Linked DNA regions of Homo sapiens. The protein of the gene in region 3 purifies or fractionates together with the protein of the main gene of each other region. This does not show direct contact. Each region holds a gene or a part of one and is shown on either strand. Other genes may lie near its edges. The genes, in order: DSC3, ESD and CDKL3.

Evidence for each region.
Region 1: the proteins of CDKL3 (region 3) and DSC3 purify together in Homo sapiens (affinity purification with mass spectrometry; one large-scale study listed by BioGRID and IntAct). This does not show direct contact.
Region 2: the proteins of CDKL3 (region 3) and ESD purify together in Homo sapiens (affinity purification with mass spectrometry; one large-scale study listed by BioGRID and IntAct). This does not show direct contact.

What each region holds. Positions count from the first base shown.
Region 1 is NC_000018.10:31,036,117-31,039,776, forward strand, and holds part of DSC3 (desmocollin-3 isoform Dsc3a preproprotein), read right to left. Parts: intron 1-3,660. UniProt on the Homo sapiens protein: A component of desmosome cell-cell junctions which are required for positive regulation of cellular adhesion. Required for cell-cell adhesion in the epidermis, as a result required for the maintenance of the dermal cohesion and the dermal barrier function.
Region 2 is NC_000013.11:46,787,059-46,790,718, reverse strand, and holds part of ESD (S-formylglutathione hydrolase), read left to right. Parts: intron 1-3,609; coding exon 3,610-3,660.
Region 3 is NC_000005.10:134,297,807-134,301,214, forward strand, and holds the end of CDKL3 (cyclin-dependent kinase-like 3), read right to left. Parts: intron 1,945-3,408; coding exon of another isoform or gene 1,891-1,944; exon of another isoform or gene 1,619-1,890; intron 905-1,618; coding exon 845-904; 3' UTR 618-844; downstream 1-617.

The DNA.
Region 1 (3,660 bases), on a different chromosome or scaffold from region 3:
TGAACAACTTCAATTTTATTAGCTATTGCCAAGTTGCTCTACAAAGTACTAATATCAATTTCTATTAATGCCCCTAGCATATTAAATCTCTCTATTTCCCATATCCTCCCTTACAAATAATTTTATGACTTTTTCCATGTTGCCAACCTAATGGCTGTTTTAATTTGCATTTTATTTATTTGTTGTGAGATTGACTGTATTTTCTTGTGTTTATTTGCCATTTATCTTCTGTAAATCATCTATTCTTCCTCCTTTAATCACTTATCTATTGTTTGTGCTTGTTAAATTTTTTTCTTGTAGGTTTACTTAGTTTGCTTTTTAACTTTTATTATGAAATCTTCTGATAAACAGAGTGCTTCAATTTTGTTTTTTTCATTTGACACATCTTTATTAAAATTTTCTGTATACCAGATACTCAAAAACCTCAAAGTTCCCCATTGCTCAATCTTTTTTTTTAAAGTAGTATTTTTGCTCTTTTTAGACTTTGACTCTCAAAACAATTTTATGATCAGTTCCCCAAGTTCTGTAAAAATTTATTTTAGGATGTTGATGAAATTCCATTTCCTTTAAATATTAATTTAAAGAGGATTTGACATTTAGGGCTCTTGAGACTTTCCATCCATGAACATGATTCATTCTCACTTACTTATGAATTATATTTCCTTTTTGCTTTCTTTCTTCCTTTTTTTTTTTTGAGATGGAATCTTGCTCTGTGGCCCAGGCTGGAGTGCAGTGGTGCGATCTCAGCTCACTGAAACATCTGCCTCCTAGGTTCAAGCAATTCTCCTGCCTCAGCCTCCTGAGTAGCTGGGATTACAGGCGCCTGCCACCACCCCCAGCTAATTTTTGTATTTTTAGTAGAGATGGGGTTTCACCATGTTGGACAGGCTGGTCTTGAACTCCTGACCTCGTGATCTGTCTGCCTCAGCCTCCCAAAGTGCTGGGATTACAGGCGTGAGCCACCGCACTCGGCCGAATTATGTTTGTTTTTCAATAAAGCTTTGCAATTTTTGCTAAAAAGGTCTTTCACATTTTTTGTTACATTTATCTTAGATACATTGATTTGTTGCTGTAATGAATGGGATTCTTCTTAACATATTTTTGAGTTGTCCCTTGATAATATATAGAAATCATTTAAAAATATTAAGCTTATATCCATGAAACTTGCTTACTTTTATTAGTTCTAGTATCTGTTAATAGATAGTGTTGGATTTTCTATGTAGTTAATCCTGTCGCTGGCAAAATGACAACTAGGTTTCTTTTCTTTTAATCCTACAAGTCTTTCATTATTGCTAATTTTTATCTGATATGCTTGTTAGGACCTCTTCTGGAATGCTGAACAGAAACACCTGTACTGACCATTATGGATTTGTTTCTAACTTAAAGAGAATATTTTTACAGTTTTGCCATTAATTATGAGTCTTTTTCTTTTTTCCTTGTAACATTCATTCATTCATTCATTTTTGTTAGATATGTTTCATTACATTAAGAAAGTTCATTCTTGGCCAGGCGCAGTGGCTCATGCCTGTAATCCCAGCACTCTGGGAGGCCGAGGCAGGCGGATCATGAGGTCAGGAGTTCGAGACATGCCGGACCAACATGGTGAAACCTCGTCTCTACTAAAAATACAAAAATTAGCCGGCTGTGGTGGCACAAGCCTGTAATCCCAGCTACTCAGGAAGCTGAGGCAGGAGAATCACTTGAATCTGGGAGGCGGAGGTTGCAGTGAGCCAACCTCCAGCCTGCACTCCAGCCTGGGGAACAGAGCAAAACTCCATCTCAAAAAAAAAAAAAGTTCATTCTCTACATTCTTAGTGTGCTATGAATTCTATGAATTCTTTTGAAATGAAATGTTTCCACTTTCTTGAAATAATCAGTTTTTCTCTGTTGATACATTTTCTCTGTTGATACTATGTTAAAATACAATAATAGATGTTCTTATGTGAACCCATGTTTCCTTTCCTGATAAGCCTTACAAGAACATAAAATATTTATATCTTACAAATATATTGGTTTGTTTTCAATTTATCTCATTTCACATATTTGTCTGTAAGTGAGATCAGGCTACTATTTTTCAACTTCATACGATCCTCATAAAATGAGTTAAGAAGAGTTCTGTATTTTTTTGTTCTTTGAAACAATTTACATAAAGTACATTGTTCCATATAATTCTGAAAGAAATAACTTATCACAAACCTGGGCCTGGTGGATCTAAAGAAGTGTGTGTGGAGCTCTCTAACTTCTAATTCAATTTATTTAATGGTTACAGGTCTATTTAGATTTTGTATACCTCCTCAAGTCAATGTTGGTTATGTGTATTTTGTAAGAAGTTGTCTGTTTTGTCTGTATTTTCAAGTTAATTGGAATTATCTATTCATGTTATTTTACTTTTTAACATCTGTTCTCTCCAAAACTATACTTCCTTTTCATTCCTAATATTGTTTTATGTATGCCTTTTCTATTTTTGACTTGCTCAGAGTAGGGTTTGTCTATACTCAAGAGGTTTAGTTTAGTTGATACCCTCTATTGCTCATTTCTTTCCTTTTTAAAAAATGTTCTTCATAAAATATATTATAAATACCAAAGATTACATATAGCATGTGTGTGTTTTAATAAATAATAAAATGAACATTAGGGTATTCACGTTCAAGGTTAAGAAATGGAACATTACTAATATTTTCAAAGTTCCTAACTATATAGCAGTAGCTCATTCATTTTCTTTGCTGCATAGGATATTATTAGAAAGAATGTACAGTTAATTCATTAATACAACTTTTGAAAGGGATAATATTCAATAGACTTCAGTTATAGTATGTTTCTTGAAACTATGAAGTCATTTGATATTATGTTTTTGTGAGGTTTGGATGCCTTATTGAAAACAAAATAAAGTAAAAAATGTAAAGACACTAGTATATTAATGATGAACTAATGACCTTTAAAGATATTTTATAATAAAAATAACTTCTGTATACAAGAATGCCCATATTTTAAATTAAAATATAACAAACTTTAAAGATGATAATATAAAGTATTACCTACTGCAGCCTAAGCAAAATAGTTTTGTTGCATTTTATAGTACTAAGCAAATTGTATTAATTGCATGATAGAAACCTTATCAGACGAATCATTAAATCCTGATGGAAAAATTTAATGCCAAAGAGAGAACGAAAATTAAAGGTGTTATCTGCAGTTGTTTCACTTTCATGCTGTTGTTTAATTTTATAGTAAATACACAAAGTAGGCTTTCTAAAATGACACCCTACTTCAGTAGAGAAGAAAAAGAATGGAAATTTATGGAATGTCTTAAATGTGAAGAGGATCTTCTGGATTAAACACAATAATTACAGAATTTTAAACTCTTCATTTCTCCTGTGGCCATAAGTCTTCTGCAGAATGGAAATATTACCTTTCAAATTCTTACCACTTCAAAGGTAAATTGCAAGATTTACTGCTCTACATTCTCAGTACTTAAATGAGTCTAATAAATTTGTTTCCACCCAAACTCATTGTAAGATGGGAATTCCAGCTATCATACTTTCAGCGGAAAGTATGATTAACTACAGGTCACCACAGATACCATATATGGTACAGGACTGCCATGGGAATTACAACAGGATCCAAAAATGTGCATGAGCTTACATTTATTTATTCAGAACGTGC
Region 2 (3,660 bases), on a different chromosome or scaffold from region 3:
AATAAGGATAAAAGTTGAGCTTAGAAAAAAGATTAATTGAAAGTCTGTTTTTAAAAGGAGATAGATCTGAGAGTGTCCCAGCTTTATGGACTGCCTCTTCCTAACTCTGGGAAAGATTGGAGGTAAGTTCTCTAGAGAAAGTAAACTGTTTGTACTGGGGAATACCAGACACAATTAGTGGGATTGTGATACTGCAAATAGATTAAGCAAAAGTTTGCACACTGAGTTTCTTCCACTAGCTTTCAAAATTTGGGGACTTAGTCTTATATCCTTTAGAAGAATTTCTTTGTGGGGAGTTTGAGTAGCCCAAAGGAAGAGATTTCAAGATACTGAGATTTGCCAACAAAGTAACCTAACCAGACCTTACAGTAAAGCAATGATTGACAACTCCACCTGTAGGCACAGTGCTTTCAACTAGATTTTTAGTGTTTCTCTCTTAAATAGGAGTGGACAGCTAAAGATCACTAGACATTTGTATAAAGTCTTTAATTTGATATGAACTTCTCTTCATATCAAAGTATAAAAGATATTGACCTCTTGACTTCATAGGATGCTATTAAAAAATATTCAAGTACATGGCCAGGTGTGGTGACTTACACCTGTAATACTAACACTTTGGGAGGCCAAGGCAGGCAGATCACCTGAGGTCAGGAGTTCGAGACCAACCTGGCCAACATGGTGAAACCCTGTCTCTACTGAAAAAAAAAAAATATATATATATATATATGTACAAAAATTAGCCAGGCATGGTTATGCACACCTGTAGTCCCAGCTACTTAGGAGGCTGAGGCAGGAGAATTGCTTGAACCTGGGAGGCAGAGGTTGCAGTGAGCTAAGATGGCACCACTGCACTCCAGCCTGGGCGACAAGAGCGAAACTCTGTCTCAAAAAACATAAAATAAAAAAATCCTCAACTACAAAAAAGCCTAGACATTTAAATTTTGGTAGTAGAAATGACAAAACTCAATAGAATGGTTAGTTGAACATTCTAGAAAGTAAAATAAGATAAAAGTGATAAATCAGAAAGGACAACAAAATTAGAGGACTAGTCCAAAAATCCAACATTAAAAGTTAGGAATTTTGGAAAATAGAACAGAAATAGAGGTATAGATATAAATAATAAATAATTCAAGAATTCCCAGAACTGAAGTTGCCAGATTTAAAAAGTTGTCTAGTACAATGGATGAAAATAGATCTACACCAACAACATAGTAAAGTTTTAGAGTGTTGGGAACAAAGAAAATTCTCAAACATTGAGAAAAAGAGAAAGTAGATTAAGAATTTTTCAAAGGTTTAGGTCAGCTCAACGGTATTACTAGAACTAAGAAGGCAGAGCAGCAGTGCTTTCAGGATTCTGAAGGATAACTTCTATGTCCAACCATATTGTCAATTAAGTGAGAGTAGAATGAAGATGTTTTCATATATGAAAGGTCTCAAAGTGTATTTCCCATGCACTTTTGGAAGCAACTGAATAATATGCTTCACCAAAATGAGGGACTAAAGCAAGATAGCTGAAGGCATAAGATCCAAGAAAACAGATCAGAGGAGAAAGAGTTTCCAGATGAGTGGAGCTATATTAAGGCAGCAACTAGAAAGCAGCAGGTCAAAAGTTGGAGATGGTAGCCAGTAATTACATGTAGCCATTTACATCAAATTAGCTAATTAATAAAACTTCAGTCCCACTAGCCACATTTCAGGTGCTCAGTAGTCACATGACCAGAAGCTGTTGTACTGGACAATACATAGATAGAACATTTTTATTAATATCACTGTAGAAAGTTCTGTTCGGCAGTACTGGTCTGAAGGGGTTTTTTTAATGTAGATGAAATTGATAGAACTGACTGTATTAGAGAGGAAATTTATGAAACCAATCAGGGTTGGGGGAGTTTGGTATTGAATTAGTGATACATGCAGAGTGACCACACAAATATCTGTGCATGAGATTGTATTCTTTTGGTAATTGAGCAACATCTTAATGACATGATAGGGACAGAGGTTTCAGAAGATTGCTTGATAATCCTGTTGTGTTTTTTTTTTTTTTTTTTGCTTTTACATAAGTGTTAATCATACCACTGTTGAACATACTTTAGACCTGATTTATTCCACAACTGCTTGAGAAAGGTCCTCTTTTAAAAATTTTGTTGTAATAACAAAACAACATGAAATATACCCTCTTAACAAATGTTTAAGTGTGCAAGAAAGGTCTTAAGGCACCAACCATTCTGTAACAAGATTATGTTCTCTTGATTTTACGTATTGATAACAGATATCCCTGCATTGAATATGGATTTGATATAGTATTATAATGAAAGTAAATGTTTCAGCTTCCCTAACAAAAGTTGAAAACCTAAAAACAAATGTCAGAAATTTTTTGTGCCGTCAGTCATCAACAAGAAAAGTTGCTTAGAATAATGTGGAAAAAGAAAATCACCAATATGCAGAGAATGGAAAGGAGCATACAGAAAACTTCCCATGATGGGGCCTTTGTGGGAGTCTATTCCTAACAAGGAAGGATAACCAGTAACAAAAAGGAGAGAATTACCAGCTCAATGAAAACAAAAAAAACTGAAAGAAAAAGGAAAGTAATGCTAATATACTACATGGCTTATCTCTGAATAGCATTTATAACTTCTTAATATTGATTAACCAAAATTATATGTGATACGATAGTGGAAGGAGAAATGTAGGGGCATGCAGAGAGCAAAGACAGGGAGCTGAAAGTTAACTAAAATCCTTCTATAATGGGAAGCCAATAGATAATAACTAAAAACTGAAAAATCTAGAAGCAGTAATAAAGTCATATTATGTAGATAGGGACATAAATACCAGAAAAATCAACTAAAAGAGGTAAATTAATTATCTCTGGAATATGGAAAATGAGAAGGTTGGAGAGTTTTTTATATATTTAGTTTTTATATATATTTAGTTTTTCATAACAGTGTGTGGAAGTATTTACTATTTAGTTACAGTTTACTTTAAACTATGTACTTACATAACTTTGATAAAAAGATAGGTGTTTACTCTGAAGTAGTAAGAGTTTACTTCCATTTATATGATGTTTTAAATAAACCCATGAGAGATCACTGTTGCATGAATTACTGTTTACTGGAAAAACGCCTGTGGTTTTAATCAAAATTGTCTTTTCTAGTTGCATTAATAGTGATTGTGATAAAATATTAGTGATGAAAGAGCGAATTAAGGATGTGTTGCATTTTAGTGCCTATGAACAAATATGTAAGATCTCAAGAATTCATTTTTTTATGAAAGATGATTTGTCATTTCATACATTTCTTTAGAAACAAAAACTATTTTTTAATAAATGCCACAATGAATTACATTTATTTTTTCACTTATTTTGCCCAGAATGACAGTGCCATGCAAAGTATAGGCTCAGGTTGGTTTAGATCAGTATGCTAAATTGACCACATTCTTTCTTTAAGGGACAAGTATATTCGTTAAATGTTAGTGGAACCACTTATTTTGAACATTAAATAACTTATTTTGGACCTTTAGTATATATCTTACTTTTTATATAGTGCATAATTATTTTGTTTCTGTATTGATTAATGAGGGGCATTAATATTTTGTTGTTGTTTTTGTTAAAACTAGTGTTGAACTAAACTGCAAAATGAAATTTGCTGTCTACTTACCACCAAAGGC
Region 3 (3,408 bases):
CCCGACCTCAGGTGATCTGCCCACCTCAGCCTCCCAAAGTGCTGGATTACAGGCATGAGCCACTGTGCCCAACCATGAATAGTTTGTGTGTGTGTGTGTGTGTGTGTGTGTGTGTGTGTGTGTGTGTGTGTGTGTGTGTGTTTTGAGACAGAGCCTCACTCTTATCTCCCAGGCTGGAGTGCAATGGCATGATCTTGGCTCTCTGCAACCTTGGCCTCCCGGATTCAAGCGATTCTCCTGTCTCAGCCTCCTGAGTAGCTGGGATTACAGCTGTGCACCACCACACCCAGCTAATTTTTGCATTTTTAGTAGAGATGGTGTTTCACCGTGTTGGTCAGGCTGGTTTCGAACTCCTGACCTCAAGTGATCCGCCTGCCTCAGCCTCCCAAAGTGTTGGGATTACAGGCATGAGCCATTGCACCCAGCCATGAATAGCTTTTAAAACAACGGCTCAAATATTTTATTAAGAACTCATTTAAAGAGGCCTGTGTGTTATAGGAGATAACTGACTCGAAGTTATGTGGCTACAAGAAGGCAGAGATCATTAAGTATAAGTACAGTTTGTATCATGTCACGGCTTGTGTTATCCACTCAGTAATCATGGCAAAAAAAAGAAGTAGGCAGAGAAGAGATGACTTTATAATTCCAAATCAAATTATCACATCAACAGAGTCTTAAAAGGGAAAAGAAAACAGTAAATGTTTTGCTAACAAAAAAAGCTGGATGATGCTCATGCACATGGATGGCTGTCTTAACAACAACTCACATCACACTTCTATTGTAGATAAATAAAACGGGAAGAGTTGTCATCTTGTATTTTTTGGACTATGTAAAAGAAAAGACACTACCAGAAAAAAAACCTGTTTCTCTTCAAATTCTTCCCCTCGCAATGGCCATCTCCACCCTAAAATTAGAAACCAAGCTAGTAAGAATCAGGGACTGGAATGTAAATATATGCTACCAAAACTCTGACTTTATTAATGCTAAATTACATGTAAATTACTAAATTATAAACATGCTAGTCAAGCCAAAAGATTTGCTTCAATGCCTTGCTCAACTTCCATCTTTTTTTTTGCGGGGGGCAGCGGGATGGAGTCTCGCTCTGTGCTCAGGCTGGAGTGCAGTGGCGTGATCTCGGCTCACTACAACCTCCGCCTCCCGGGTTCAAGCAATTCTCCTGCCTCCACCTCTGAGTAGCTGGGATTACAGGTGCACGCCACAATGTCCGGCTAATTTTTTGCATTTTTAGTAGAGATGGGGTTTCACCATGCTGGCCAGACTGGTCTCGAACTCCTGGCCTCATGATCCACCTGCCTCGGCCACCCAAAGTGCTGGGATTACAGGCGTGAGCCACCATGCCCGACCAATTTCCATCCTTTTAAACAATCTTCATGATATGTTTAAATGCTGCTCCAGAAAGTTCAGTGTAAAGCCAAACCCATGTTACATGGTTATCAAGTATATTTGTTTGCTCAGAAATGTTTGGTGTTCCCAGACATCAGGATCTTACTTTATCACATATTTAGAAACTTTTCCTTCTGTAATTATAAAGCCCTAAACCAATGCTAAGAATGACCACTCATCAAGTATGATTGAAATAATAGGTGATCAAATAAAATTATATGACTAAATGTAAGCTGCAATTTTATTAGGATGTACCAGTCAGGTAGTTTTTATAAATTCATGTTCAAATTAAGAAAACATGAATAATTTAAAGATTAATAAATTTAAAAACAAATTTAGGTGAATGTACATATAACTAACAGGATTTACGATATACCTGTAAAATTATCTAGTTAGCATTTTTGTGTATGTAACATTAATAAAAAGGATTTTTAAAAAACCATACAGTGATTCTGGGATTCCCTGAATTTTCAGCTGCTGCATTTTCTACTCTACATCTGGCAAGTTCTTCTTCCTTTCAGTTTGTGCATTTCCTGTATTCTAAAAAGTAAATAGAAACAGGTCTTTAATTGAGGACATGGTGAGTCTTTGGCTAAGGAAATACAGCCAGAGATAAATACTTGTACTTTGCCCCTATGGGTTGTTTCATAAGGTACAGGGAAACTATTTAGCAATGTATTCCTTATCATTATCATCCAACAAAACAAAAGGTGGCCTTTGTATGGACTCTTTTCTCTCTTGCCTAACTCACTCATTCCCAGTAATTTAGTCTCTCTCTGGTTATAGAACCTATTCAATGCATGCACGCACATTTGAGATAGCTGAAAGAGTTTAAAAAGTAAACCTGGCAGGGCGTGGTGGCTCACACCTGTAATCCCAGCACTTTGGGAGGCCAAGGCAGGCAGATTACCTGAGGTCAGGAGTTCGAGACCAGCCTGGACAACATGGTGAAACCCCGTCTCTACTCAAAATACAAAAATTAGCCAGGCATGGTGGCAGGCACCTGTAATCCCAGCTACTCAGGAGGCTGAGACAGGAAAATTGCTTGAACCCAGGAGGTGGAGGTTGCAGTGAGCTAAGATCACACCACTGTACTCCAGCCTAAGTGGCAGAGTGAGACTCTGTCTCAATAAATAAATAAATAAATAATAAAAAATAAAGTAAACCTGAGAAGTGCTTGGATCTGATTGTATAATTCGAAAACCAAGTCAATACAGAGCCAAGAATAGAAAAAATAACTAGCAATTCCCTATCTTATGTTTTTAAAAATATGTCATATTCTTTCATGCTCTAAAATAAACTACAGGCTCAAAATTTAAGAAATGTTCTTAATTCTGACATTTATTAAAACCAGTTGTACTAGCCTTTTATGCAATTTCAGTCACTTGTCAGAGCTGCATTTGAATAAGCAGTACAAATAAACTATAATCAACACTGATGACTTCATTTTTTCTGGAGTTCTATATCATATGAACAAGAAGATGTTTTCCCTCCTTAATTTATTATTTATCCTAAAAATCACAGAAGGGTCTTTTTTCCTGCAGAGTTCCTTTTTTCCTGGACTAGAAAGTAATTTTAGTTCCTGGGGACTCTCACAGGACAATGGGATAAACACATGAGGCACATTAATAGTCTGCCTACCTCAGGAGCCCTAACTCACCCAATGATTGAAAAAATGTGCAAATGGTATGCTGTGCAACGTGCTGTGACATGAGTATGTCACCCAAATTTAAAAGTTTAAAGCCACCTTATTACTTTTTATAATGAACCGAAAGATGACTATTAATGGATTTTTTTTTTTTTAAACGGAGTTTCACTCTTGTTGTCTAGGCTGGAGTGCAATGGTTTGATCTCAGCTCACTGCGCAACCTCCGCCTCCCAGGTTCAAGCAATTCTCCTGCCTCAGCCTCCCGAGTAGCTGGGATTACAGGCATGAGCCACCACACCCAGCTAATTTTTGTATTTTTAGTAGAGAAGGGGTTTCACCACATTGGCCAGGCTGGT